3 separate regions of the Homo sapiens genome follow, and regions 1 and 2 are each linked to region 3. The links come from fine-mapping of genetic effects on gene expression. A gene starts in region 3. Each other region holds a variant in brackets. All regions are shown on one strand. Distances are between the middles of the regions.

Region 1 (10,295 bases), 19 kb before region 3:
ATCCGCCTGCCTCAGCCTCCCAAAGTGCTGGGATTACAGGCTTGAGCCACCACGCCCGGCCCTAATCTATTCTTTCACTAAAGAGAGCAGCTCTTTGAGATGCTGTGTATGCATAGATGTCAGGGCTTTAAGTACCATGCTATTGGAATGGATGACGGGAAATCACAAAAGATATTAGGCAACAGAAGATGATCAGATTTGATGAAATATTACTGGAGCTACAAGGTAAACCCCTCAACCATACTGTCAAGCAGCTTATATTCCAACAGAACAATGGTTCTCAACTGGGGGCATCTCCAGCTCCAGTGACTATCTGGCAATGCCTGGAGAGATTTTTGGTTGTCACAGCTGGAAGGATGCTGCTCACATCCAGTGGGCAGAGGCCAAAGATGTTGCTAAATATCCTACAATGCACACAGGACAGCCCCATAAGACTTATCCTACCAAAAACGTAGCAGCAGAATAACAGAGAAACAAGCACAGTAAAAACACACATAATATTAGTCTGTACAACGTACAGGAGAGCATGCAAGTGGGCAGGGGAATTCATGAAACACTGTAACAGGCACCTAAAGCTTAAACTGAATTGGAAATGATTTAGGAAGGTAGGGGGATCAGGCACTATAAGCATGAGTATGAAAGTAAGAGGTATATTCTTCCACATGTTTAGTGCACTACAAATAACTTGGTACCCCTAAAACTCAGAGGCAAAGAGTAATGGGGCAAGATAAGGCTAAAAAAGAAGTCAGGGGCCAGATCACGAAAGTCCTTACTTACTCAATGAGGAGTTTGGACTTCACCCTATAAGTAATGGGGTGGGAGGAGGTTGGTATTAAAGGTTAATGAAGAGAAAACAAGAAGAAACTTATTTTCGAAAGATCACTCTGCTAACATTATGGAGTACGGTTTGAGGGCAAAATAAGATAAAAGACCAATTAGTAAACCACTGCAGTAATCCAGGCCAGAGAAGACTAGAAACAGGATGTACCAAGAACCAATATAGTAGCATAGATTGATAAAAAGTACGATAGCCAGTCTTTAATGACAATATGAAAAGAAGTTCTAATCCCAATTTTCAAGCCCCATTCACAGAGATGAGAGTATAGAAGGAGAAAATTTAATGAAAAGATAATGAAAGATAAAGCTATCCCATTCAGATCACTTATTAAAAAGCTATGCAAGTATATAGACAAGATTATTACTAGGGCATATATTAGCAATATCTGTGTCCTGGTGCTTTGAACCCTGATACAACAATGAAAATATTTTAAAATCTTTCTCTTCTACTTCTATTATCATACATCATACATGTATTTATCTTACTTCCTGATATTTCGTTACATTATTTTCAATAAAATAAAACACCAATGTATTTTGTTATTTAAGGATTTGTTTAATGTTTTAAAATTCAAAGCACTTTAAATTATTTTAAGACAAAAGATTAATAAAAACAACATTACCTTTCAAATACAACTTTATAACAGCACAGTGGAAGAATGGTAAACAGTCCCTCTTTTTTTTAAAAAAAAATCAGTACTTAAAACCAAAGGAAGGCTTATATGTACAGCTAATTCAGAAAGGGAACAATGACACCTAAAGACATAGATAAATGCTTCATTTTAATCCAATAAATGTCCTACCTACTGGATCTTAATAATGATGTTTTCAATATGCCATTTAAAATAAACTATCCTTGAAAATAAAGTTTTAAATCATTCAATATAATCTATGAAATAGCATCTAGTTAACTAGATTACCTTAAATATACCAAATATTATAATCAGCAAAATAAAAACCAGTAAATCAATTTGTATCTGAAAGCCTGATGTTCTGATCTACTGGATTTTAATTTTTTTTCCCTAAGATTAACAATATAAACAAATCTTTTGGGTACTCAACATATTATGACAAGCTCAGGCATGTTCAGGGTGGTATGGCCATAGACAGTACCAACATATTAGAAGGAAATTACCTATTTATAATTATTAACTTTCAAAAATATGACTCACCACCGAACACCAGTACAATATTTTAGCAATCATCTTATGTGACGTGACAAGTGGAAAACAAATTTCTCAACAATAGTGGGTCACCATATTCCTCCATCTAACAGTTACTTTTAAAAAAAGTAAACTTTGGAGGCCATGACGGCAGGAGTGAGAGGCCAGGAGTTTGAGACCAATCTGGGCAACATAGCAAAACTCTGTCCCTACAAAACAATAATAGTAATTATAAATTAGCTGGGCATGGTGGTACATGCCTATAGTCCCAGCAACTCAAGAGGCTAAGGCAGGAGGATCGCTTGAGCTCAAGAGGTTGATGCAATAACCTATGATCATGCCACTGCACTCTAGCCTGGGCAACAGAGCAATACCCTGACATTAAAAAAAAAAAAAAAAAGATTAACTTATTTTCAAAAGCTCCACATATAACAAACATGATTAAACACTTTAAAATTAAACTGAAATAAGCTATGAAATTTCATTTTTCCTTTTTACACAAAGTATCATAAGTAAAATTGTGAACAAATTCTAAATATTTCCTTGTTGTTTTTAATTGTTCCTAATACTATTTTAGTTTAATTATTTATTTAACCGCTTCTTTAGATTCTCAAGGTGTTCCATATTAACATCTTGTAATGCCAGTACCATTGCTTTAGACAAGGAAGGATTAAATGAAATAGTCATTAGACAGCACAAATCTATTAGATCTCTTTGACATTTCTGCAACCCTTCCAGGAACTTTTGGTATTGAAGAGGATCCTTTTTTGACTGTTTCATTTCTGGTACTGAGAACCCTATCAAGCTAGTAAGTATTTCATCCACAAAGTCTACATCTAGATATGCAGTACCATCAGACACCTTTGCAGTTATACTCCAAATACCACCAGAACTTGAGAGATTTCCAGTTAAGGTTACAATAAATGCTTTCACTTTCACTGTTGTAACTTCCTTTGGTTTGCTGGCCATTAGAACAGACAAATAGACAAAGGGTGGAGAATACAAATCCATGGCAATAGAAAGATTAATGCTATTCTCTGATGATCTTAAAGAACAACTCTGTAAATTACAATCATTTTCATTAGAAATTTGTGAATTCCTTTTCTGTACATAGTTGACCACCTCTCTATTTAATATTTTATTATTTAAGGAATGGCTATCTGAACTGCTGGTTTGTTTTATTTTATTATCTGTCTCTAAGTTCTTTTCTTTATTTGTAAAATCATGGGCTAAGGGTACATTACAATGAACTGAAAAAATACTCCTGTTTTGGTCTCTAACAGATGGACAACCAAATGATTTGTCTTCATTAGTCATTTGTTCAGATACATTTTTTTCACTCCAATTATTGTTTCCATTTTTGCAAGTCAAAGAAAAGTTATTCGTAGTATTAGGATTATGTGAAAATCTCTCTATACTTCGATCGGCATTTCTGTTAAAAGTCAATGGTTGCAATTCCTTAGTTTCCATCTGTTCTTTCTGGACAGTTTCTTCTAAAAGCAAGGCCTCCTCCAGTGAAAAGTCATCTAATTCTCCATCCATTACATGTATAGATAGGTTTGATGGTTCCTCTTTTGGTCTTGGAGAAATAACAAATTCTGGCTCAAAACTTGACTGTCTTGTGGGAATGGTATTTGAGGAACTACCTGTGGTGAAACATCGTTCTGAGGAAGTGTCATTATTTGCTGTAAGCTCATCATTTTCATCAAGACTTGCCAAGAGTTCTTCATCAGAAGGACCTAATGCAGGATCTAGAACATCTGTAACTCTGGGAATGTTTTCGTTAGAATTGTTTGGTATGACTGAAACTACAAGATCAGGTTCCCCTATTAATCTTGCAAGTACTTTTTCTTGGGCATATTCTTCTAAAAGAGCATCTACTTCACCTCCTAACACTTTCACGTTTTCTGGTTTCAATAAGAGAACACCAAGACGGAAAGATATATTTCCATAAATCAAAATTTTTGTACCTGGAGGAAGATCACTATGAAGAATTGGAATAGGCTGATATTCCATTCCCTGTATTTGTACGATTCCATCAGTTAGCTGCAGCATCAACATTCGTGAAGGCTTTGCTTCCCAAGGTTTTGGGGTTACTTGTGCTTCAGCTGTAACTAGATCATTTGTTGTATTCTTTCCTCTCAACTTCTGTATCTGGGAGTATGCAGGCTGACTTACATCAACCAAGGAATTAATCTGCAGAGCATAAAATCCATTTAATTCTCCTTTTGGAATTTCTAAAATGCCATCGGGTAAAAGAGGATGCTCCAAATCCCTCAGATCAGTAAGGAGCCACTGCTCAAACACTTGTTTATTCATTTGGGCCTGACTCAAGTTAACATTATTATTTTCTTCTTGAATCCAGTTAATACAAGCTTCCAGCCACATCGGAGGTACTTTAACATGCCATGCAGCTAAAAGCCAAGTTTCAGCTCTTAATGCAATACTAGTCACATTCATTTCTTTTAAATAAAAGAAATAATATGCATCTATTACCTGAAAACAAAAAACAAAAAAATTTAGATAATTCAGTATATTTGAATACAGCTTCTGTAATTCTCTACAATGCACAGACAGGCACACCCTTTAGATTTTTCACTCTTCAGCATCTTACAT[G/C]GTCGAAATTGAAACACTACACATAATCAGATGGTAAAATGAGAAAATCAAAAGGTTTGAGACAGCTATACCTAGGTTTGAAAGCTGGCTCTGTCAAGTTACAAGATATGTGACCTAATATAAAATTCTCAACTTCTGTAACCAGTTTTTTCATCTATAAAATGTCAACACTACCATCTATCTTATAGGATTGTTAACAGGATCACATGAATTATATTTGTAAAGCATAATGTCAGACCTATAAAGGATATTCAGTAAACAGTAGTTACATTAGCCTCCCTTATCTATGGGGAATATGCTCCAATACCCCCAGTGGATGTCTGAAACTCTAAATATTATCAAACTTAATATATATTATTTTTTTAAATCCGATGACCAACCAGCTACTAAGTGACTAAAGGGTGGGTAGCATAAACAGCATAGATATGCTGGACAAAGGGATGATCCAAGTCCAGGGTATGATTTCATCACACTATTCGGAACAGCACTAAATTTAAAACTTATGAATTATTTCTGGAATTTTCTGCTAAATATTTTCAGACCTTGGTTGACTGCAGATAACTGAAACCACAGAAAGCAAAACCACGGAGAAAGGGAGACTACTGTATAATATATTATAATTGATCTAATAATCACATTCTAATCATTTAAAATTTAGTTAAGAAACAATGTTCACTAATGTTCTTTATGTATGTGCAATAGTTCTAATTTAACTCTATTAAAACATACCACTGTGTCTGTCCATTTAGTACTTGAATATGTGGTCTAAAGATAAAATTATAACAAATAACAGCAGACTCTGAGCTGATAGATGTAAAGCATCTTATTTGTTGGGCTAAATATTTTCAAAAGTCTGGCCAGGCAAATATATAAATATTTAACTTCTGATTTTCTCAGTATGATAAAGCAGTAGCAAAACAGTAAAGCCCAATCAATCATGTGTTCACAAAAGTATACTTTGTTCCTTCTACAGATGAAGATATTTATGAAGTAGAATATATTAAAGTTTTACTATGTCCATAAGAAAACTTACCACGAGGAACAGCAGCACAGGATTTGATGACAGAATTTGGAACTGGTTGTTAGTGGATTACTTGAAACCTCCACTGCTCAGAAATGGCCCTGGGAGATAAGACAAAAAGCAGTAAGAGTTATAAGATGAAGTTGTAGAAAGACAGGACTATTTTCTTAAGTGCAAGAGTTTGATGGTATGGTTCATGGGGATCAGAAACAAGAGACCATGAGAAAGTTACACATTCTCTCTAAGCCTGTTTCCTTTTCTATATACTTACCTCATAGGCTTACTGTGAAAATTAAAGAAGATAGGAGGTATAGTATTTGATGTTAAGAGTACATCTCTGGTGCTAGACTATATCATAAACTCTTACTTATAACCTCTGACTCTAAACAAGTTACTCAACTTCATGATATCCTACTTATCCTTATCTGATTTGTAAAACAAGAATAACAGGATTTTCCTCAGGCTTGTTATGAAGATTAGATTAATATGAAAAAAGCAGCACCTGGCACACAGCGAGAACTCAGTAAATGTATACTATTATTAGACTTACAGTGCCTACTACAGCAACTGGCAAAAAGCAGCCACTCAAAAACTATACTTATTGTTATTTTATTTTTTTTTATTTTATTTTATTCTATTCTATTTTATTCTATTTTATTTTACTTTTTTGAGACAGAGTCTTGCTCTGTCGCCCAGGGTGGACTGCAGTGGCGCAATCTCGGCTCACTGCAACCTCTGCCTCCCAGGTTCAATCGATTCTCCTGCCTCAGCATCCCCAGTAGCTGGGACTACAGGTGTGTGCCACCACACCTGGCTACTTTTTGTATTTTTAGTAGAGACAGGGTTTCGCCATGTTGGCCAGGCTGGTCTCAAATTCCTGACCTCAAGTGATCTGCCCACCTCAGCCTCCCAAAGTCCTGGGATTACAGGTGTGAGCAATCGCGCCCAGCCATTATTTTAGACTGAATGACCAATTCCTACATTGGATAAGTTCTACACTGCTCTGAAATTACTGAAATGAGACTTTTTTGTAGGTTCTCAAGAAAATAATATATACCTACCTGAGATTTTAGGGGTTTAAACCCTGAAAATGCTAATACAGCTCACCTTAAGCTACTGCTATAACAAAACTATTTTACATTGCATCCCCAAAAACAGCTGAAAGAAATGCAGCACATGTCTGAGAAATGGAAGGAACTAAAACTTCAGTTTATTATTGATTCTAATGCTAGCAGTTGAACATCTTTTCATATTTCTCAGTGACATGGATTCCTTATCACTGCCTCTAAACAATTTCTCCTCTTTTGTTCTGTACTTCTGTCCTAGCACATAGTAAATGTATGTAAGTGCTTGCTACCATTAAAAATTTTTAAATGTCCCATAAAAGAAGACATAGAAGCATATAGTTCTCAGGAACCTATAAACAGTGGGTACATTATTAATTTAATTTAATGGATGATTAGAATTTAAAGGACATGGGGAAGTTAAGGTCATAATTATAGAACTGATTAATCTTTATATTAAAGAAAATGAGAGTATAAACATTTTTTAAACTATATGTAAAAAACAATGTAAAAATTCAAAAGTACAAAAAGTCTTTACTTGTTGTGATGAAGATAAACTATGCAGGTCAAATGAGCAGGTCTCTTTAACAAAGAAACCAAATCTCCACGCCAGCTCTCTGATTTACCAAATGGAAATACTTCCTATCTTGGCTGGGCATGGTAGCTCACGCCTGTAAACCCAGCATTCTGGGAGGCCAAGGTGGGAGGATCACTTGAGCCCAGGAGTTCAAGACCAGCCTGGGCAACAAAGCAAGATCCCATCTTTAAATTTTTTTTTTTAATTAGCCTGAGCATGGTGGTGCATGCCCGTAGTCCCAGCTACTAGGGAGACTGAGGTGGGAGGACTGCTTGAGCCCAGAGGTCGAAGCTACCATGAGCTATGACTGCACCACTGTACTCCACCTGGGCGACAGAGCAAGACCCTGTCTCTCAGAAAAAAAAAAAAATACTCCCTATCTTATTAAGAAAAGCAAAGTATAGGTGATATGGTTTGGGTCTGTGGCCCCACCCAAATCCCCAGTGTTGGAGGTAAGACCTGGTAGGAGGTGACTGAATCATGGTGATGGATTTCCCCCTCAGTGCTGCTCTCATGATAGTAAGTGCTCCTGAGATCTGGTTGTTTAAAAATGTGTGTGGCACAGACGAGGAGAAGAAGCCCCTATGCCAGTTTTCCATGTGACACCCTCCTCCCAGTGGGTGCGGAGCCCTCCTCACTCCTCTCTGACCCGCCCTGTTACACAGCCCACCAGGGTCCAGGGAGGCATTTGTTCTTGCTTTAAGTCAGGAGTAACAAATAATTTCTTTCTTTTTTTTTTTCAATTAAGGGAAAAAAAGGGCCAGGCACAGTAGCTCGTACCTGTAATCCCAGCACTTTGGGAGGCCAAGGTGGAAGGATCACCTGAGGTCGAGAGTTCGAGACCAGCCTGACCAACATGGAGAAACCCCATCTCTACTAAAAATACAAAATTAGCTGGGTGTGGTGGCGCATGCCTGTAATCCCAGCTACTCAGGAGGCTGAGGCAGGAGAATTGCCTGAACTTGGGAGGCAGAGGTTGTGGTGAGCTGAGGTTGCGCCATTGCACTCCAGCCTGGGCAACAAGAGCGAAACCCTATCTCAAAAAAAAAAAAAAAAAAAAGGGGGGGGTGTTGGACTTACCTCTACCTTTAAAACCACCCAGAGCCCTGCCAAAAAAAAAAGGGGGGGGGAATCCACCTCTATCTTTAAAACCACCCAGAGCCCTGCATCCCGCCCCATGTCCTATGTTGTTGCTAATGACAATATGATGTTTACTCTGTTATTCAAAAACTATTTTTATGTAATTAATGTATGCTTTGTTTATAAATGCCTGATTAAAAAAAAAAAGTGTGTGGCACCTTCTCCCTCTCTGCCCTCCCCCTGCTCTGGCCACATAAGATGCACCTGCTTTGCCTTCACTTTCACCATGATTTTAAGTTTCCTGAGGCCTCCCCAGCCTGCTCCTGTACAGCCTGCAGAACCATAAGCCAATTTAAACCTCTTTTCTTTATAAATTACCCAGTCTCAGGTATTTCTTTACAGCAGAACAAGAACGAACTAATCTAATAGGATATATAGTATGCTAACTTTTGTATACAAAACAAAGGAAAATAAGCACATTATTACTTAATAAACATAAAGTACCTCTAGATGGATATACAAGAAACTAGACAAAAATTTAAATATTTAGCTACACTCAATAACAAGAGTAAGATCTTCGTGGGTCAGGAACAGATGGCAAACTTAAGAGTGGTTAAGTGGGCACTAAAGCCGTGCAGCCCCCAGGAAAAGGGCACTTAGCTAAAAACAGTGTAGCTAAAGATACAAAGCTCCAGAAATCCAGCATGCCATGGATGGGACAGAAGACCAGAAACAGACTCCTTGCTGGAACTGGGCCAAAAAAAGTTCCACCCAACACCTACATGTGGCGGGAACAGAGTTACCCTGAGAATAGACACTGGGCCTGCATAACACATATAACACACGTAGTGTGGTCCAGAACTGGGCTATTCACTAAGTAAAAACCCAAATTCCTAATGAAACAGCTGACCTAGAGCTATGTCAGCCAGAGGGACAGGTGGAGTAAACTCTAAAGCCACACAAAAAGGGTAAAACACACACAGGAAAAAACAATCCAACGTGAGCCTGCAAGCCAAAATTATAATACACTTTAGGAAAATTACTACCAATCAGCAGACAGAGCAAATAGAATTTACACCTGAAGACAGTTTTTTAAATGAAACATCTTAATTTTTTTTTTATCTCTTTGAGCATACTAAATATACTTAAGTGGGACTAACATCCTAAAAGAAGAATAGAAGATAATTAAATGATCACGGGCATTTATAAAAAGAATCTACTGCAAATCTTGGAAACAGAAAATGGTCTCTAAAATTAAAATCAATAGATGGGATAAACATCCAGCTAACAACAAATGAGGAGATAACTTATGCATTAGAAATTACCTAGAACACGGTATAAAGAAAGATTAAGATATTACCTGCTGGGCGCAGTGGCTCACGCCTGTAATCCCAGCACTCTGGGAGGCCGAGGTGGGTGGATCACCTGAGGTCAGGAGTTCAAGAACAGCCTGACCAATATGGTGAAACCCCGTCTCTACCAAAAATACAAAAATTAGCCGGGCGTGGTGGCATGTGCCTGTAGTCCCAGCTACTTGGGAGGCTGAGACAGAAGAATTGCTTGAACCCGGGAGGCGGAGGTTGCAGTGATCTGAGATCGTGCTATTGCACTCTAGCCTGCGCAACAGAGTGAGACTCTTGTCTCAATTAAAAAAAAAAAAAAAAGATATTACACAATGAGGAAAAAAGAACTAAGAAGTAGGGAACATAGTTCCAACAGTGAAATAATTGCAATTTCAGAAAGAAAAAATAGAAGAGGTGAAGGAAATGTTTTTTAAAAAGTAATGGTTGAGGCCGGGGCAGTGGCTCATGCCTGTAATGCCAGCATTTTGGGAGGCCAAGGCAGGTGGATCATGAGGTCAGGAGTTCAAGACCACCCTGGCCAACAATGGTGAAACCCCATCTCTACTCGAAATACAAAAATCAGCTGGGCATGGT
Region 2 (10,295 bases), 270 kb before region 3:
TCAGACAATAACTGGGAGATTATCTATTTCAATCTTTCATTTTCTTAAGAAAGAAACTGGTGTTGCCAGAGGTTAATAAATTTGCCAAATATGACACAGCAAGTTAGGTCAGAACTGAGACCCAAACTTTGGTCATCTCTCAAGATAGTTTGGACTAACTATGACCATTTATTTAACTGTGCCTGGAAAGTCATGACTTTCCTTTAGCCTGTAGAACAGCAAGCCAATAACAAGGAAGAAAATATCAGTTCAGTATTTTGCTCCATAATTCCAGCAGTTCAACTTGGCTTTGTACTAGAAACAATGATTAGGACAAACACTATCTGAGGAGCATCAAGATGAATACAATAGTAAAGCCCTAAAAATCAAATAAAATCCCTAACAGGTCACAGCCATTCAAACGGGATAGAAGATTGAGGAAAATTCAAGCAGAAGGAAGAAGATGCCTCTCCAGGGATGCTGGAGACCCTGAGCCCTCTCTCACAAGATGTGACTATAAAGTAATGCGACTGATTTTAAAAGAAACACAACCAGAGCTTACACATCTAAGTGAGCCCTGTGTTGCTTGGGGAGCTGCGTTTTTGTGGCAAGGATGCTGCCGCAGCTCAGATATTAACTCTTGTTTGGGAATTGTCTTCAGTGTCTTCTTTAGCACGTTCTTCTAAATGTTGATCACACACACAAATCTTGGTCATGCGAGAGTGGAGTTTTTTCTAGAAAACTTACAGTGTCAACTCTTGGAAAAAGGTGGCGGGTCAAGGTAGATCATCATATTTTGGGATAAATCTGAGTTGCATGTATTAAATAGTAACTGGGTTCATTTTCCCTTGTGGCTTAAACATTGGACGGTGTGCTTCATCTAGAGAAAAAGATTCACCCACATGGAGTCAGTCAAGGAAAAACCTTAAGGAGCATGAACAAATCTTTGTGTTACTGACTTCAAAGAAAGGCCTCTTAATTCTAGTTCTTAATAATTTTATGTCTGTTGATAAGCTACTCTTCTGTCTCTCAACCCACATCTAAGCTCTTCTAAAGGAAAGGTCAATTATTAGATCAAATCATATGAAATTACTGCTATTTGACCATATTTAATGTACAAAAATCATGTCTTTCAAGGTAATCCATTTAACAGCTTTATATCTTAATAGAGGCCAGGTGCGGTGGCTCATGCCTGTAATCCCAGCACTTTGGGAGGCCAAGGCAAGTGGATCACAAGGTCAGGAGTTCGAGACCAGCCTGGCCACCATGGTGAAACCCCATCTCTACTAACAATACAAAAAATTAGCCAGGCATGGTGGCAGGCGCCTGTAATCCCAGCTACTCGGGAGGCTGAGGCAGGAGAATCGCTTGAATCTGGGAGGCGGAGGTTGCAGTGAGCCAAGATCACCCCACTGCACTCCAACCTGGGCAACAAGAGTGAAACTGTCTCAAAAAAAAAAAAAAAAAAAAAAAAAACTTAGTAGAGTGGTAAAAAGCAGTTCAAACGTGTTATCTAACATCACCCTGCTGCTGAGATGGACAATACTGAACATCGATATTGAGATCCTAGAGCATGTGATGTTAAACAGCCTCACAAGAGCCAAACGTCAGTTTTCTCTCTTAATAGTCCTATTTTTTATGCATTTAGGTTTTTCTCACCATCTAATTTAAACTGCACATCTTGAGGGTATAAAATATTCTGCCAAACACACCCACAAACAGCCTTTCACAATCAGGGCTATTCTGTAAAAACCATCCGTCTTACCCCAAGCAATGATGATAATGTGATTACCTACATATTGGAAAGCAGGTCTGCCAATTTGGTCCCTCTAGGTCCTGGGTCTCAGCCAGACAGGCCAGCTGATCTGATTTGTGCCTAAGCGATTTCACTAAGGAACAGAGTGTACCCTCCGCCTTTTCACCTCCCTCCCGCAGGGCAGATGTGACCCGGCCGATCACGGTTGAAGTTACTGTGCAGTGAGCCTTCTTTCCCCCTCTAGTTCTTCTCTTTGCTTTTCATTTCTTCGTTATCCTGCATTTATCATCAAAACGTGATCAGAGAAGCCCCTGGCCAGTTCTGCCCCTTCCCCCCTTGCTACACACCAGGGTGGACATTCATTTGAATATTCAGATTCATCCTCCAGTGTCTCTAATCTGCCTGGGAGAAAGGACTCATTGGTTAGAGCATAGAAATTTCTGGTTATTATTTCAGCATACAAATGTCATTTTATGTTTGGGTGGGTCTGCAAAAACTGTGTGACGTTTATTTGCCTCTTACATGATATTCTTCTCAGTGAAGAAAATACATCACTGATAAAATCTGGCCCCATGGGGTTTACCCGGTCATCAGCAGAGCTATCAAGACCCCGCGTAGAAGAGGCCTGCTCCGTGCTTCCCACCCAGGACTCAGCATCGGCCTGAGCAGAAAACCTGCACCGCCCTCCCAATCCCCTCCCCTACTCTTTTTCAGCAATCACTATCAGTGGGAAGTCACTCTGCACATTCAATTACATTGTGACAAATCTTAAATTGTTCACCTGCGCCTCAAAATGAAAAAAAGTGGGGCTACAACGCTATGGAATTATGGTCTCTGCTGGGGTCTTCCTAGTAAGTCCTAGGCCTGGCAGGAGGTGTTCACACGTCTTTTGTTAGCAGCTGGGCTGACCTCGCCTCAAGGCTCTTTTTCATTATTGCTGCCTGGAAAGGTATTTCCTGTTTTTTGGGTTTTTTTCTTTTAAAAAATATTTTTTTAATGAATCTTTCGTGATCACGAAAGCAATCTCTTTTCAATATCAGAAAATTAGAAAATGTTAACTGGGCCCAGTGGCTCATGCTTACAATCCCAGCACTTTGGGAGGTGAAGGGGGGAGAATCACTTAAGCCCAGGAGTTTGAGATCAGCCTGGGCAATATAGTGAGATCCCATCTCTACAAAAAATTTAAAAATTAGCCAAACATGGTGGCACACATCTGTAGTCCCAGCTACTCAGGAGGATTGCTTGAGCCCGGGAAGTTGAGGCTACAGTAAGACATGATTGCACCACTGCACTCCAGCCTAGGCGACAGAGCGAGACTCTGTCTCAAAAAACAAAGAAAAAATTAGAAAGTGTTGATGAGAAAAAAAGGAAAATCAAACCATCATATTCTTATTCCCCCAAGATTACCACAGTTAACCCCAATGTGCAAATCCTCCCACACTTTCTCTCTGTACATATATATGTATTTTATATATACATATACAGGTATACTCTTATAAGTATATATATATATACATATATAAAATCAGTCATCTTTCCATGTCAATCAATTTTCTTCTTATTTAATGCCTTTCCAATTTTCTCCATTGTCCCCAAAACATCTGTTATTTTAGGAGTTTAGCTAAACCACATCCAATCCAGGACCACACGCTGTATCTGGTTGTAATGTTTTTAAAATCTCTTTAAATCTAGAACACTCGTCTCTTACTGCTCATCACTGATTGAAGAGTCTAGGCCAGTTGTCTAGTTAAAGACCCAGCCTCTGGAATTATTTGCCTTGTTGCTTCCTTAGATGTTCAGTTTTTTTGGGGGTGGGGGGTGTTGTTTGTTTTGTTTTGTTTTGAGACAAGTTTTCTGTTTGGTTTGTTTTGTTTCTTGCTCTGTCACCCAGGCTGGAGTGCAGTGGTGCAGTCTCGGCTCACTGCAACCTCCACCTCCCAAACTCAAATGATCTTCCCACCCCAGCCTCCTAAGTAGCTGGGACCACAGGCTGGAGCTACCACACCCAGGTCCTCAGTTATTAAGCTTGTTCTTCCATCTCTATATTCCCTGTGAACTGGAAATCAGATCCAAGGGATTAGATTCCAACATTTCTAGGCTAGAATCCATCCGGAAAGCTGTGGAATGCTTTACACTGTCCCACATCAGCAGACACTTCACACTCAGTTGCTCACCATTAGTAACGCTCCCATTGCCCACTGGGTAGGGAGATGATAGTCTAATCTATCTATCCAGGAAGTATCCTTTGGGGTGTTACTTTGGCAAATTATTTTCCAGACTTTAAACCTTTGTAGCCAGTATCCTGATCCAAAAACCATACCATAAGTAACTAGTAAAGAACAGACAGGACCAGTTTGAGATCAAAGCCAGGGAGGAGTAAGTGGGGAAGAGTGAAGGTACGAATTTGCTTAGTGTTCACAGCTGGAAGGAAGACTCACTGTTACAGTTTTCACGGTGCCCTCTACCTTCCAAAGTAATTGATAGACATTACGGAAGCTTGGTGTACATCACAAGCCCCGAGGACTCGAGGGAGACTGAGCAACTGGGAAAGTCAGCACCGGGTGTTGTGTCATTTTTTTTTTCCTGAAAAGCTCTTCTCGGGAGGTCCTCAGGGATTCTGATTTCTCTTTTAACACTCATTAGTCAAGGTGATAATGCCAGGCTCACACATATAAGTTCTCCAGAAATAAGAACTGCCTGTAATCTTCCTCAGAGGAGCCTGATCTAAGTATCTACTTGAGCTACAATCCCATAGGGTTGGATATTGTCACAGCAACGAAACACCAGCAGGGACCTTGATCCCATCTCCCCACCTACCTACTTTAATCTCTGTCTCGGTCCTGGGGAACAACAATTCTGTGATAAGGACGTCATGCAGGTGAAGTTGTTTAATAGAGCTATGGTTGCTGAGTTCAGTGCTAGATAGGGGACCCCAGATGGGGCTCTCTCAGGTACACATCCCATCAGGCACCCACTGTCACTGTGATTTGGTGGTCTTGTTAGCCATGCACAGTATAGGTTGTGCTGTTTGCTTTTTTGAGGTAAGAGGGGCACCGTATTTCAGACAGCAGGAAAAAACCTGAATTTGTCAATCCTATACATACAACTGCATTTATACTCAGGAGAAATATACCTCTGAAGAGGTTTGCCTCTGTGCCTTTAAGCAAGACATTCGCAGAATAAATCAGAGCTGAGGTGGCTCTGTCTGAGACTGTCAGGATGGCCCAATTTCCAGAATAATAACAGAGATGTGCTTGGATAAGGCAAATTGGCTCAGGACATGAGAGGCAGAGAAAATACATAACACAGCCCTTGGCTAAGCGGAAACTCAATAACTACCGTCTGAATGATGCAGCCAGGTAAATCTCCTAATGGACACCAAGTTGAAAATTAAAAGGAAAAAGAAGAGCACAGTGTTTAGAAAAATGGGTCCTACAGGCTCTTCTCCCTGCTGCTTCGATGC[T/C]AGGAAGGTTCTTCTAGACTGCTTTTAGTACAAGAAGCTTGTACAACCAGTTCGGCTGGAAGTGTGCCTGCCACCCTGCCACGGCCCTCATTAGATGACTCTGACCTGTTGAAAAGCTGAAAATAGAACATTGAGCCATTTTCTCTGCAGCTCAACTGTTATAATTGTCTGTCTTTCTAAATATTAGCAGTACCCTAGTTATACCGTCATTTTAAAAATACTTGTCCATTTTTACCTTTTCTTAACACCACTGACCACCACACTACTTTTCTTCAGGGAAAGGTTTTTTATGTAAAGAGAGGAGTGACTTTCATTTTATTTCCTTTCTCCCTAGACAGCTAGAGATATTACTTTAAAAACAAATTCTTGAGGGCTTTTATCCTTGGTTTAAATCACCTGGAAAAATCAGTAGGGAAGAATAGAGTATTTCCTTAGTTACCAATTGGCTGTAGTAACTAAAGCCTGCAAAAATCCATCTCACACTTCCTATTAAAATTTTATAAGCATTAAAAATATTCACTTGGATGCTGTATGGTGTTTTTTCTTTTGCGACCAAGCTGAATTTTTTTCACTCTGACTTCTATAGCCTGGCTGATTTTTCTTATTTACTTACTTAAAATTTTTTTAAATTAATAAGTGAACTCCTGGCAGGGAACAGGGCTCACAACTGTAATCCCAGGGCTTTGAGAGGCTGTGGCAGGAAGATAGCTTGACACCAGGAATTTGAGACCAGCTTGGGCAACATAGTGAGATCCCATCACTAAAAAAAAAACTTTTTTTAATTAGCCAGGTGTGGTAGTATGTGCCTGTAGTCCTAATTACTCAGGAGGCTAAGGCAGGAGAATCGCTTGAGACCAGAAATTCAAGGCTGCAGTAAGCTACGATCACACCACTGCACTCCAGCCTGGGTGACAGAGAGAGACCCTGTCTCCAAAAAAAAAAAATAATAATAAATAAATAAATAAATAAATAAGCGAGCTCCCAGTTCTGTTCAATAAACCAATGGCCTTTGAATTTTCCAATAGGAGTCTCTTCCGAATCTGGAACCAAGCCTTGGCAACACAGAGTGTTGGATGGACAACACACATAATAAACTGTTTACCCTGAAATGCATGTTTCAAAGGCTTCTCTGCATTAGATGACAGACTTCCTACAAATCATAACTAATATTCATGTCAACTTCCCTTTTCCAGCTTTAAAGCTGATACAAATGCCCTCTCTGGTATCTGTGGACTAACATTTCCCTAGCCCCTAGTTCTCACTTTCTATGTGCTTAGCTTAAAGGGCCTGACTCCAACTGGACTGAATATTTTTTTGCAAATCTATGGGCTTTTGAACATCGGACTTTTCAGGAATCTTATTTAAAGCACAAATTTCCAGGCCTCACCTTCCACAGACTCTGATCTGGTAAATCTTAGTAGGATCCATGAGTCTGCATTTTCAACAAGCTTCTGTCCCCACCCCAAGTAAATGGTCCTTGGAATGCACTTTGACCAACATTTCTCCAAGAATGTCAATCTCCAAAGCTTTTGATTAATGCTGTTTTCATTCATTTAGTCAACAAATGGTGGCTAGGTACCCACTATGTGCAGGATGCCACTTGAGGGACAGATAAATTTCATATGGGCCCTGCCCTCAAGAAACTTACAATCTAATGGGAGAAATGAGACGTGAACATCAATAACTAACCAAAGGAGTAAGAGGTGGTCCTGAGAGAGACAGATAAAATATTATAAGAGTTCAGAGGAGAAAGAGGTAACATTGAGATAGAAGGGATAAGGCATGGTTTTATGGAGAGATGAGGTATGCATTAAACCTGAAAGTACAAAGTATTTGGGCACATGGAGGTAGAAAAGCAGAGTCACTGTCAAACATAGCAGGCGCGAGCAAAGCCACAACGTGGGGGAGGATGAGGCTGTGTAGGGAAGAGGGAGGCATTTAACTTGCTTGGAGCACAGGGTGCAGGCAGGGGCAGAGAAGCAAAGGAGCTTATAAAAGAGAGTTGTAGCCAAATCCTGGAGGGCTTTGAATGCCAAGTCACAGAGTAGGGTCACGAGTAAGAGCTTTAGGTATACCCGGAAAACGGGTGACTGTGAGCCGAGTTGCAAGTAGCCACAAGCTGCACTAAGCAGGTAGCAATGTGGCAGCTGTGGGCATTCTTCCTAGACGGAGGGAAAAAAATCTACTGAGCTCTTCTCTGTAAGAATCCCTCAACCCTACAGTCCAGCCAGAGCATCATTCATTATTTCTCAAAATATGATGTCCAATGTAAGCTCACACCTTGCCTTGTAGTAACCCATTAATGTTAGAAAAGGGCTAGCGCTTTTACCTGTGGGTTTAACCATCACAAAGCCTATAAGTGCTCCTTGAGAAGAAAGGATGAGAACAAAATGCAAGGTGAGAGTGCTCCATGCTCTCACACTTTTCTCCTCTCGAGAACACTACTACTTCTCCACACATGCTCCAACACACACATACACACACACAGCCAAAACTTAGGGGAGATGGCTGGCTGAAAATAAGGGCACAGTGGTATTAAGACTAGACCTTCCCTGGTCAAATTTTCCATACCCTGTTTAATGAGTAAGTTTTATTTACAGTTGGCCCAACGTAGCCCAGGTTCTTTATTTGTAGATTCAGCCAGCCTTGGATCAAAAATATCCAAGAAAAATAAAAATAAAAACAGCAATACAACAACAAAAATTATTACAAATAATAAACAATACAGTCTAACAACTATTTATATAGGATTTACATCGTATTAGGTATTATAAGTAATCTAGAGATGATCTGAAGCTTATGAAAATATGTGCATAGATTATATGCAAATACTATGCCATTTTATATCAGAGACTTGAACTTCTAAGGATTTTTGTATCCTCAGAGGTCCTGGAACTAATACCCCATGGATACAGAGTGTATTACAGCACTATGTATGACTCTTTGTAGACTTTAAGGGTTTTACAACTTCCCCGATATCTACCCAGGAAAAAAACAGACCATAAATACTAAACATCTCATTCTTTCTGCAGTCGTAATAGTTCTATCGCCAGCACTTCGCCACCACCACCCCTAGATCGAGGTCCCCAGCTCAGGAGCTGACTGACCATCTGCATTTCAAACAATCACATGAAAATCCATAATTAGGAGGCTAATGCCTTTGCATGCATTTCAGAATCACCAACAGCATAGATTACATGAGCAAATTGCGTCAATAAATTCAGCTGCCACCCTATTTTTCACCCGAGTCTTATCAGAAATACAAAACAACATGTGCCAGAGATAAATGAATTACAGTCAGAAGCAGGGACCCAAGAAAAGCAGGGGGACAGTGGGATTATTTGCCCAGGTGAAGGGTCATTTATCCAAGAAATCTAATCAGAGGCAAATAGCATATACTTTTTCAGGGAAGGGGGAGGGCAGGAGGGTTTGTTTCTGCTTGCTTTGTGACAGCAGCAAAACCTCTAGCAAGTGCAATATGTCTCCTGTGACCTTTTTGCACATCTAATATTCTCAGCAGCCATTATATGAGGAGTTAGGAATCCAGTGCCCACTACTCTCCTCTGGGTTTCCTCCCTACAGAGAGAATAGGCCAACAAATGAAACAGATGTCTTAGCTGCCTACCCTGCAGCCATGCTGGCCCATTCCTTGTGTGACCTGATCATTGTGGATCTTGCTTTAGGAGAGGACAGGAGGAGCGATCTGAATGCTTGTCACCTTGGATGAAATGTGAGTCTCATCACAGACATATCCTTGACTCAGTCCTCTTCACAACAAGCTCTGTCTGCCAGAGTTGCAGCTGCTCTGTGCGTCCTCCCCACAACCTAATGCAGAGCCACAGGACATGCAACACCCCTGAAAATCTGACCCAAGTAAGATACAACAAAGGTGTTTCTTGCTCTGCCTCGGTGGAACACAATGGTTTTGTCATTCCTCTTTCAGTCTCATTCACACACTGTCCCCACAGTGGTGCTGCCATCCTGGGGTGACTCCAATGCAGGTACAAGCAATGGCAGATCAAAAGGTAATATTGTCTCCCTACAAACCAACTCCTTGGAGACCCAGAGGCAGCCACAGGTCAAGGAAATAGCTCGTGGCTTAAGCTGAGAGATCCAGGCACAGTGATAAGGGATCTTTAGCAGGAGACCAATTTGCAAGCTGGTTTTTGCTGAGGAGACAACTAGCACCTGCAAAAACTGTCCCTTGTCTCCTGGGGTATCTGAGATGTCGGCCAAGGCTTCCTCCCACAGGCATAGCATAAGTGCTCATGGAAATAACCCCACACACATACACACATACATATGTGGGCATATATACACACACAGACTCACACAGAGACAAACTGCTACTGGATGGAATCAGGGCTACTCTAGAGTGATGCTCTGGAGGGATACCTTGAGCTGGGACCTCGGATTTCAGAATCCAGGGAAAAGGCTCTAGAACTGTGCTGTTCAGTATGGTAGCCACTAGTCACATGTGGCCACTAAGTGCCTGACATGTTGGCTAGCCTGAGTTGAGATCTGAGATCTGCTTTAAGTCTTAGCATGAAATAATGTAAAATATCTTGTTAATAATTTTTATATGATCAAATGTTGAAATGACAATATGTTAGATTGTATGTTTCCTATTGCTAGTGTAAATTCGTGGCTTTAAACAACTTTTAAAACATGTAAAATATATTTAAACAAATGTATTATCGTACAGTCCTGGAGGCCAAAAGTCTGAAATGGATCTCACTAAATTATAATCAAAACATCAACAGGGCTGCATTCCTTCTGGAGGCTCTGGGGAGAATCTGCTTTCTTGCTTTTTGCAGCTTCTAGAGGCCACCTGAATTCCTGGGCTCATGGTCCCCCGCTTCCTCCGTCTTCAAAGCCAGCAACATCCCATCTGTCTGACCCATTCTTCTGAAATCAAACCTCCTTCTAACAACAGCCAGTAAAGGTTATCTGCTTTTAAGGACTCATGTGATCATATCAGGCCCAGATAATTCAGAATTATCTCCCATCTCAATGTCTTTAACTTAGCCGCATCTGCAAAGTCCCTTTTGCCACATAAGATAACATATTCATGGCTGGCAGGGACTAGGACGTGGA
Region 3 (10,137 bases):
AGGTACAGATGTATAAACAGAGAAGTGAAGACTTTGCTGAAAATAAATTAAAACCTATTTTGTAAGACTTAAAATTTTTTTAAAGATATCAATAAAAAATGTACTTCTACATCTACAATGTTATCTAAACCTCAAAACAGTAATTTTTTGATAGAAAGAGTATTCTCATCTATTTTTGACAATGATGAAACTGAGGCATGAAGATTAAGGCATACATATCATACCCAACAGCAGACCCAGAACTAGAACATAAATTCTGCTAATCTCCATTCTTTTACCTTTTTCTGTCAACTTAAGTGGAAAGAGGAAGTAAAACCAGTCCCTCAATTCATCTATAAAACCCACTTATGTATAAAATCCACATATAAACGGCCATTCTATAAGAGTGGTTTGCTGCTACTATAATGAACAGAATTCTCAGATCTCACGTAAATAACAAGCCCATCTAATGCATTCTAAATTGTTTCATTTACAAAATCAAATGAAAGAAAAACTTAAAAATATCACCTACACCTACTATATTTATCTTTGTGATAGCTTCGACATAGTGCTGCGGTTAAGTACTACTTTTCCTTTTGCTATAACCCTACTAACATAGCACATAAAATAATTTTTACATTTTTTGAATATTACAAACTGATATTCTAAGGCTTATGTATCAGTTTATTTTTTAATTTTTTTTTAATTCCAAACTTGCTCTTCCTGGTATATGCTATTGTTTTGGTGGGTTTTTTTTGGAGTCTTGCTCTGTCGCCCAGGCTGGAGTGCGGTGGTGCAATCTCGCCTCACTGCAAACTCAGCCTGCCGGGTTCCTGCCATTCTCCTGCCTCAGCCTCCCAAGTAGCTGGGACTACAGGCTCCTGCCACCATGCCCGGCTAATTTTTTTGTATTTTTAGTAGAGACGGGGTTTCCCCGTGTTAGCCAGGATGGTCTTGATCTCCTGACCTCGTGATCCACCCGCCTCGGCCTCCCAAAGTGCTGGGATTACAGGCGTGAGCCACCGCGCCCGGCCGTATGTGCTACTGAACACCGCAAGTGGCAAAACTCCTTTCAGCCAAGAGTTGGGATGAATTCTGAAAAACACTGCTCAGTGAACCCCAACAACTAAACTGTTCCATTAAATGTGTCAGTCCTAATTAATAACTCTAAGAACCACTCTCAACTTCTGAAGCTGACATACTATGAATTTACAGTAATGTTATCATAACTGGGCAAAGAAAAAAATTCCATTGACTAAACACCCAAAAGATAACCAAGACACCTGTAAAACACAAGCAAATGTGATAAGAGATACTTAACACTGTACAAGCATTCCAATACAACTATTCTCAAATATTTTACCAAAAAGTCAAGAACTTTAGGGGAAATAAAATAACTGCTAACATACATCTGTTACACAGATTTCATCACTTAACAACAAAGTAGAAAGTAGGATTGATCTAGGATACAGATATAATTCCTACAACTGCATGTCTTAATTATAATAAAAAGATGATGTGTAATAGGTTATTTTTCCTACAGATTAGAAAGAGAAGCTTATTAAAATGTTTAATCAAATGGAAAAATATTATGTAAGATCTATATTATAAAGTTTAGACTGGATATTAATAATTGAGACCTTTAATAATTTGGTAAATTATATTAATGGCATCTAGTCCTTCAGATAATTCCTAAGGTTTTCATCCCTTCTTTGCTTAGGAAATTGGGTAACCATAGTCACAAGCAGGTAGAAGCAGCTCAGAGGCAGAGGTTAGCAAGGGCAGCACAAATTCCCATGTGCAAAGAACAGCTCCTGATCCTAAAGAACTCCACTGTCCAAGAAAATAATAATAAATTTGGAAAACTGTCTTTTAAATTATACAGTAAGATATGTTCGGGCTGGGTGCGGTGGCTCACAGCTGTAATTCCAGCACTTTGGGAGGCTGAGGCAGGTGGATCACCTGAGGTCAGGAGTTCAAGACCAGCCTGACCAACATGGAGAAGCCCGTCTCTACTAAAAATACAAAAAAATTAGCTGAGCCTGGTGGCGCATGCCTGTAATCCCAGCTACTAGGGAGGCTGAGACAGAAGAATCGTTTGAACCAAGGAGGCAGAGGTTGCAGTGAGCCGAGATTGTGCCATTGCACTACAGCCTGGGCAACAAGAACGAAACTTTGTCTCAAAAGAAAAGAAAAAAAGATGTTCAAAACTGGTAATCCCAGCACTTTGGTAGGCCAAGGCGGGTGGATCACCTGAGGTCAGGAGATCCAGACCAGCCTGACCAACATGGAGAAACCCCATCTCTACTAAAAATACAAAAAAATTAGCCGAGCTTGGTAGCACATGCCTGTAATCCCAGCTACTCGGGAGGCTGAGGCAGGAGAATCGTTTGAACCCAGGAAGCAGAGGTTGCAGTGAGCCGAGATTGCGCCACTGCACTCCAGCATAGGCAACAAGAACGAAACTCAGTCTCAAAAAAAAAAAAAAGGTATGTTCATACCATATTATCCACTTCTTTTACTTTCCAGAATTAAGGACATAATCATAAATAAGGACAAAGAAAAGCCATATATTTAAGGAGATAATATCCCCGGTACTGTGATTTGATCTTTACAAATTAAGTGAATATATTAAATTATCACATATACCCCAAAACTATGTACATCTTTTATGCATCAATAAGTAACAAAATAAATAAAGACAAAGATTTATGTGGCAGAGAGTTTACCACTGAGTTTTTATATTTTGAAAAAAACAAAATGTTCAAAATGGGAAAAAAAGTTAAATACATAGCACTACCACCATGAAATGAAAAGCTATGAAATCTTTAAAGAAACCATTTTTAAGAATTATTTAATGACAAAGAAATACATTCACATTTTGTTGGGAAAAAGAACACATATAAAATTACATACAGCTTAATCCCCATTAATTTTATAATCAGGAAAAAACATTTTTAAGAAAGCTGATTAGCATTGTATGAATGATAAACTTGGCTGACCACACTAATCTGCATTCTAGATCTGTACTGCCAGGAACTGAACAAAAGAAAATAAAGTGGGAAAATTTTATCACCTACCACGAAGGTCTAGGCATATTTGATTTACAGATTAATTTTCAGTCAGCCTCATATATTCCAATTTTTTTTTAATAAAAAGCGAGGCAGGAGTGTCATCCTTTTGGACCTTACGTGTGTCATTCTGACAATAGCTGAGACTTAAAAGCACTAACGAATATTTAAATCTACTCCACAGTTCCATTATCTTCATCTAAACAATAAAGGTAAGTCTACATTTTAATTCATTGAGGATGAGTTCAAGGTAATCCTGGAATTTTTGAGAAGATACTCCGAAAATTAGGGAGGAAAAATTTATACCGTATATGACTGAAATTAGAAGAAGTAATCAGAGGAGATTTTTATGGATCCTCCATAACCTAAAGTAAGGAAAAGACAGAAAGAGAATCTGGAACCCCATTTTGCTATGTGACCTTGGATATGTTCCTTAGCTTCTCTTAGTGCTAGTTCATTCGTTCACAAAACAAAGATAACTAACAACTTGCTCAAAGAACTCTAAAAAGTATTAAACTGCCAGCACAACGTTTAGCACACAGTGGGGAACTCAGGAAATAGTAGTTATAAATACTATTTTAAACAATAATGCAGCTGGATAGTGTACATTCTCAATTATATTAGCCCATCTAAAGTAAATCCCCCATCTAAGTAATATTGGGTCTAAATTCACTGAGTCCAAAGTGATCACTACACCATTACACCATTGTACCAATTACACAAGACTGGAGTCAATGAATGTATTGTTAAGTTCTTGAATGAACACAGGTATAAAATTATTGGGTTGAAAAGTCTTAATTTCAAACAGAGAATAAAAGGATGGAGAAAAAAGACTTTCCTGTTATTTAAAGAGCAAACCTAAAAATTAAAAAGACGTAAAGAAGAAATCAAATGGGGGGAAAAATAGCAACCATCCCACAATGGCATCTAGAGGGGATGAATAATTTACACCAGTCGGGGTCCAGTCTGGACAATGAAACTGGGAGGAAGAGGTTTTTTTTTTTGTTTTTGTTTTTGTTTTTGAGACAGGGTCTCGCTCTGTCGCCCAGGCTGGAGTGCAGTGGCGCGATCTCGGCTCACTGCAAGATCAGCCTTCCGGGTTCACGCCATTCTCCTGCCTCGGCCTCCTGAGTAGCTGGGACTACAGGCTCCTGCAACCACACCCGGCTAATTTTTTTTTTTGTCTTTTTAGTAGAGACGGGGTTTCACAATGTTAGCCAGGATGGTCTCGATCTCCTGACCTTGTGGTCCGCCCGCCTCGGCCTCCCAAAGTGCTGGGATTACAGGCGTGAGCCACCGTGCCCGGCCGGAAGAGGTTCTTATATAGGGCTGCTTACTTGTGATTCCCACTCATCATTCCTTATCAAGAAAATGATGACTGCAACATAAATCCTAATTTGAAAGAAAGCACAGCATCATCATTACCGTACCGCTATTTGTGCATATTAGTGTCAGTGACATGTCTCAGGTTTTAAATGACAAACTCAATTAAATGTTGCAAATACTAACTGGCGGATTAAATCTCTATAATCCAAGTATCCTAAGCCCCTACATAAACTCATCAGTTTTGAATATTTAATAAAATTCTGAACTTTGTGTTTTAGAACTGAAATGCGAGTTAAGTTTTACCTACCCAACAAGACTATACACTCTTCATGGTGGGGACCATTTAAAAAATTATATTATCACTTAAAGAGAACTTTTATAAATTCCACAATCCCGGACATTATGTTCTAACAGCATGTGTTAACGTATCCTCCCAGAATGTAAATACTGGTGTTTGTCATGAAATCCTCAGTGCGCCCTAACAAGAGTTTTCCTCTAATCAGTCAAGTAAAAGATGCTGGGTGGATGCAATCATGGCCATTTAAAAGAATGCTGGTATATATGTTTTGCAAATTACCCAAGAAGGAAACATTATAACAGGAATGAATCAGCACAAATTCATCAACACTAAAATATATGCATGTATTCGGCCAATGGTGGATTTCGCTTTATGTGCAGATTATGACACCTTTATGCTTCAAAATGAGTTTGGGATTGTGGGCGGAGGCTGGAAGGTTGACGAGTAAGGATGTGGAAAGCGGGTACTACCAGGGCTGGAGATTTCCCAGGGCTGTCACCGATTGAAAGTGACCTTATGTGCCTTAACAAAGGAAGTCATGAAAGCTTGGCACAGGAGCCTTAAAAGTAAGGAACCGAATACAATGCAAGTGTGCGCTGAACCCGCTAGAACAGGAGCACGTTTGAGGGCAAGGGTTTTTGTCTGTTTTCATCACTGCCACAAGGCAGGCGCTTTGAATGGAACGTGGAGGTCTGCAACGTATTCAGCGATACGCATTCATTTTAGGAGACAAGGGCAATACATATTGCCTAAAAATTTTATCGGAATAAACTACAGCGACGACACTACAAAATACTTCCATCTCAGGTCCCATTACCCAAGAGGAAAGTCTCAGAACCGAGAGCCCTGTGAAACCGCCTGTGCCCTCTCGGCGAGAAGTTCTCCAGTACTCCCAGGCTCGCCCCGCGTTTCCCCGGCTCCCGCCCCGGCGCAAGGCAGGCCGAGAACCGCCAGCTGCGCCCCCGGGCCCGGCCTTGACTGACGGGCGCCCCGGACCATTACAAACAACGGGTTTCCGAAGCGTGGGCCCGGCCCAGCGGACGCAGACGGCCCGCACTTACCGCGCCGCAGCTCGTCCCACAGCCCACAGACCACAGCCCGGGGCGGGGTAAGGGGCTTCGGGCACGAGTGTGGGCTGTGAAAACACGGGCATAAGTCTGGGCCGAGCACCGACCTGGGCGTCCCGCATTTTCCTCGCGCAACATCGGTCCCTGGGCAGCGCAACTGTAAGGACAGGAACCGCCGCGGCGCGCTCCCAGTTCCTTTTTTACCTCTTCCCGCCCGATTTGCCGCGCGCTCGCGCCCCTCCTCCAACCCCAAAGGACTCCTTCGGGGCTGGAAAACGCCCCTTCCCCGCCCCCTCCCTGTGCGCGTGAACTAGGCAGTTGTTAGATCTCGCGAGAGGTTCGCCCCCTAGCCGCCCCTCCCCCCAGCTAGTGAGTGCGCGAACGAGAAAGGAGGAGGGCGCTCCAGGCGACAGCACTGCAGACGCCATTATCCTCTGTTTCTCTGCTGCACCGACCTCGACGTCTTGCCTGTGTCCCACTTGTTCGCGGCCTATAGGTAATTGGAGTTATTGGAGCTTGGGTATTGCTGATTCGGGTAAGGGTTGGGGCTCCCTGAAAGGCTGCGTTTACTTTTCCCAAGCCCGGGTTTTCTCGAGCCCTTAGTGGCCTCCCAGCCCGAAGGGAGGCGCTGGCGGGAGGCGGGGTTGTCGCCTCCTCCGTCGCCTTGATTGACGTGGCCTCGGGCCAATCGCTTCGCCCTCGCACCATCGCTGAAGCCCTGGCAGCCAATAGGGCGCGACGGCGGGGAGGACGCGAGAAGGCGGGGGAGGGGAGCCTGCGCTCGTTTTCTGTCTAGCTCCGACCGGCTGAGGCGGCGCGGCAGCGGAGGGACGGCAGTCTCGCGCGGTGAGGAGCCGGGTTGGGGGAGCGGCTCGTGGAGGTGAGGGTCGGAGCCCAGTTTTTCCGCTTGAGGGAGGCGTCCTGGGAGCCGCTTTGGTGTTTGGCCGCTTCTCCGAGTGGGAACGTTGCCCGGTGTCCCCTCCCCCACCTCCGCCATTTCCCTGAGCGTGTATCCGCAGTCCGCGTTGTGGTCCTAGAGACTTGGGGATTCGTGAGGCATGTGCCTCTAGGATGAGCTGGAGCTATGTGGCACTGGGAACTAGGGACCTCGTGGAGGAAAGGAGGCCGGTGCGGGGAGAAGGTCGCGCCGCCGCTCTCTTTGTGTGAGCCCCGCCTCACCTTGGGTCTCCCGGCCCGGGGTCGGAGCTGGAGCGGCGGGGATGGAACGGTCAGGGCTGCCTCGATGGCTTTGTCTCGGGCAGTGGGGGGAGGATGCGGGGGATGAGACCTCGGGACCGCGTGGTGGGTGGGGGAGGGGGTCGGCGCTCGGCTCCGCCTAGTAGCACGTAGTCGCCATTACGCGGGCCGCCATTTCCTGTCGGATCCGGGTGAGGAGAGGTGCGGTGCTTCTGCTGTCGACTTTCGCTTTTTCCCGTCCTGTTACCCGGCTGTTTTTGATCTCGGTGCCGGGAGGCGGGGAGGGGAGGGCGCGTTGGCGCTCGGCCAGTGGAGCACATACTTAGCGGATTTTTGAGGCCTGGGGACTAGTGACTGCAGGACCCGAAGGGTGAACGGCAAGCGGCAACGTTATTCTTACAGATAAGCCCTGCTGTTTTTGCTTAAACTTTCTTATCCAACTCTTCTCCCACCACACCTCAGAAATTGCGTGCTGGGCCGGAAGGATGTCGTTTCAGTTGTCGTTAGGAGAGCAATAAGTCGACCAACGGTATGGGAGAATGGGAGGCATAAATGTGCCTCGCTTGTTGGCTCTTTGCTGTCTAGCCAACCTTCTAGTAGAGGCCGCTTGTCAACTCCTAGTCCCGACAAGAGGGAAGCTTAAAAAGGCTGTTTGTAGTCCTATCGACCGTTTTGGCACGTAGACACTTTAGTTTTCGTGTTACAGGCATGATTGTTGTGTTGTACTCCCTTAAGCCTAATTTAAAATAATCCGCTAGTGACTGTTAGTTTTCAAGGGCTCCATTTGTTTCGCTGATTAATAATAGACTGGTATTGTGGTAGTTTGGGTCTGGTCCTATATTAGATTTTTGGATTTATCCCTCCGGTAGATTGTTCTGGTTGTTGGATGTGTTCGCAATTGCCGTTGTATTTGTAAACTTTAGAGATGTCACATAAGATCGCTTCAAGCATGAGTCGAAAGAAATAGGAAAGCAATTGGAAGTTTTAATATAAAATTAGTTTTCCCAGTGAATAAGATGCATTGTAACTTTTCATAAATGTATGCTTTGTGGATGACATTTATCTTTTCAGGGTTTTGGGAATGTGCCGTATAAAACAATTCATTGCTGTGGTGGGACTTAATCCAGTGGCTAAAAGTTATTGTTCTAACTTAGCAAAAAATGAAACCAGGCTCCCTTGAATTTTGTATTTTTTAGGCAGTCATTTGAATTGTGAAACCCTAAAATGAAGAATCAAGTTTTAGAAACAGCTGGTTTTTTGGGTTCAAATCAGTATTCACTGTGATCGGAAACAAATATTCAGTAATAAGAATAAACAAAAGCAAAACTGATTTGTGTTGGTTCTTATAGGCTACTGCAGCACTGGGGTGTCAGTTGTTGGTCCGACCCAGAACGCTTCAGTTCTGCTCTGCAAGGATATATAATAACTGGTACGTTCTAGAAGCAATGTCTTTTTTTTTTTTTTTTTTTTACAGCTTGCTTTCCAATAAGCCAAATGTACTAGCTGCTTTATTTTTCCACAGATTGGTGTGCCCGTTTAATAAAAGAATATGGAAACTGAACAGCCAGAAGAAACCTTCCCTAACACTGAAACCAATGGTGAATTTGGTGAGAAGAAATTTTAGTTTTAACAGTATTTTTTTATCCTGTTAATAAATTGCCTTTTTCTGTTAATTATTGCCTTAGGAGTGTGTGGTGAATTTTTGGTATTACTGTTTATGTAATTCTGCGATTATCAGTAGTTACATCTTAGCTTTTATTTATGAAGTAGAAGTAACTGATTTGCATATAAAGAATTTTTCTTGCATTTTGGGATTTCAAATCCTTTGAAGTATTTTGTGGCAGTATTTTGTGTTTGGTGCATTTTACTAGATGGAAGCATAACGTTCAAGTCTGTAGCAATGCCTTTGGTCTTTTCAAAACATGCCTAAGATTAGCAACAAGTCTCTTGAAACAGAATGGAGTTACTTTGGAGACTTCGCTGCTTTCTTTGAAATGTGAACTGTTAATTTTTAGGTAAACGCCCTGCAGAAGATATGGAAGAGGAACAAGCATTTAAAAGATCTAGAAACACTGATGAGATGGTTGAATTACGCATTCTGCTTCAGAGCAAGGTATAAATTTTATTCTTGAAAATTTGAAGGTGGTTCATACTCAGGTAGAAATTAAGGTCTGGTTTGGCTTTCTAGAAAGTCAAAGTTTTACAGATTGAAGAATATAAAACATTTGGTTCTTTCTAAACAGACTTGAAGGCTCTGGTGGTTTTCTTATTCCACTAACAGTTAAGATTAAAGCCCTTGCTGTAGTGAACCGCCACTACAGGTCAAACTAGGAGGAGAGTGTGATTCTTAAAGTGTTAATAGATTAAATCTTAATTATGTGTGGACTCCTTAGGAAACTGCTTGGTTGGCAGTTTATTGTTTGATCACAGGTCACAATATGAAGGTACCTACTAATACTAAATTAATTGACTTATTTTACCAAAGGGTGCTATAAAATCTGTGCTTAGTTTTATTTTATACTTGGTGTTATTTCTGACATTGAGTACTCCAAACTATCTAGTCCTCACAGCACTTAGAATTATATTTTGATTTTTGGTTTGGTTTTGGCCTGGTCGTTTTTACAACCCCAAATAGATTTTTATTCTTATAACAAACAGGTTAGAGGATTTTTTAGCAAAATCTAAGAGCGTAGGTAGCTATTAATTTTAGGGAAAGGCAAAATAATTTTTTGTCTTTGTATCTTCTCCAGAATGCTGGGGCAGTGATTGGAAAAGGAGGCAAGAATATTAAGGCTCTCCGTACAGACGTAAGTATTAAGAGTTTAAACTACTACACGAGCAGCTTCAGTTTATATGTCTATAGAAATTTAAAGATTTACATCCTAGAAATCATTTCATAGTTTAGCTACAAAGACATTTGTAATAATTTATTATTACAGAATTGATTTCGAAGTTATCCATTCCTGTTTTAACAAAAGCCCAGATTGAGCAGGGTGGGGGGGTGGTTTCTTTCAAACCTCTTCACATTTTAATAAGAGTCCACCAAATTATTCACTTCATCAAGCAAGATAACATCTTAATTAGAAATAGCGACAAAGTGTAAAAATCCTTGATTGCACCATTTCCTGTGTGTGAATCAATTACAGTATTACTGAAAACCATTGCAGGTGGCTGGTTAAATCCAGAAAAATTTTTTTGT

The links. PIP is the estimated chance that this variant, and not a neighbour inherited with it, causes the effect. A credible set is the group of variants that fine-mapping cannot tell apart.
Region 1: its variant is the best candidate, but not a certain one, in a credible set for the expression of RMI1 in spleen (GTEx, PIP 0.85).
Region 2: its variant is the best candidate, but not a certain one, in a credible set for the expression of RMI1 in thyroid (GTEx, PIP 0.75).

What each region holds. Positions count from the first base shown.
Region 1 is chr9:83,995,152-84,005,446 of GRCh38, reverse strand. It overlaps RMI1 (RecQ mediated genome instability 1), which reads right to left. Exons shown (of 3, transcript NM_001358291.2): 2 at 5,650-5,738; 3 at 1,373-4,496. The coding sequence starts at 4,460. The coding sequence ends at 2,583. Among named protein-coding and RNA genes, the nearest start is that of RMI1, 19 kb to the right of the region's middle. The variant G/C (reference allele first, on the strand shown) is at 4,617.
Region 2 is chr9:84,250,114-84,260,408 of GRCh38, reverse strand. No RefSeq gene overlaps it. Among named protein-coding and RNA genes, the nearest start is that of SLC28A3-AS1, 23 kb to the left of the region's middle. The variant T/C (reference allele first, on the strand shown) is at 5,199.
Region 3 is chr9:83,976,603-83,986,739 of GRCh38, reverse strand. RMI1 (RecQ mediated genome instability 1) reads right to left here and starts at 5,935. Exons shown (of 3, transcript NM_001358291.2): 1 at 5,849-5,935. It overlaps HNRNPK (heterogeneous nuclear ribonucleoprotein K), which reads left to right and starts at 6,525. Exons shown (of 17, transcript NM_031263.4): 1 at 6,525-6,587; 2 at 8,288-8,367; 3 at 8,461-8,545; 4 at 8,954-9,051; 5 at 9,689-9,745. The coding sequence starts at 8,488. RefSeq lists silencers at 5,522-5,601, 6,412-6,551 and enhancers at 5,246-5,754, 5,812-5,901, 5,922-5,991, 6,122-6,181, 5,755-6,262 and 2 more.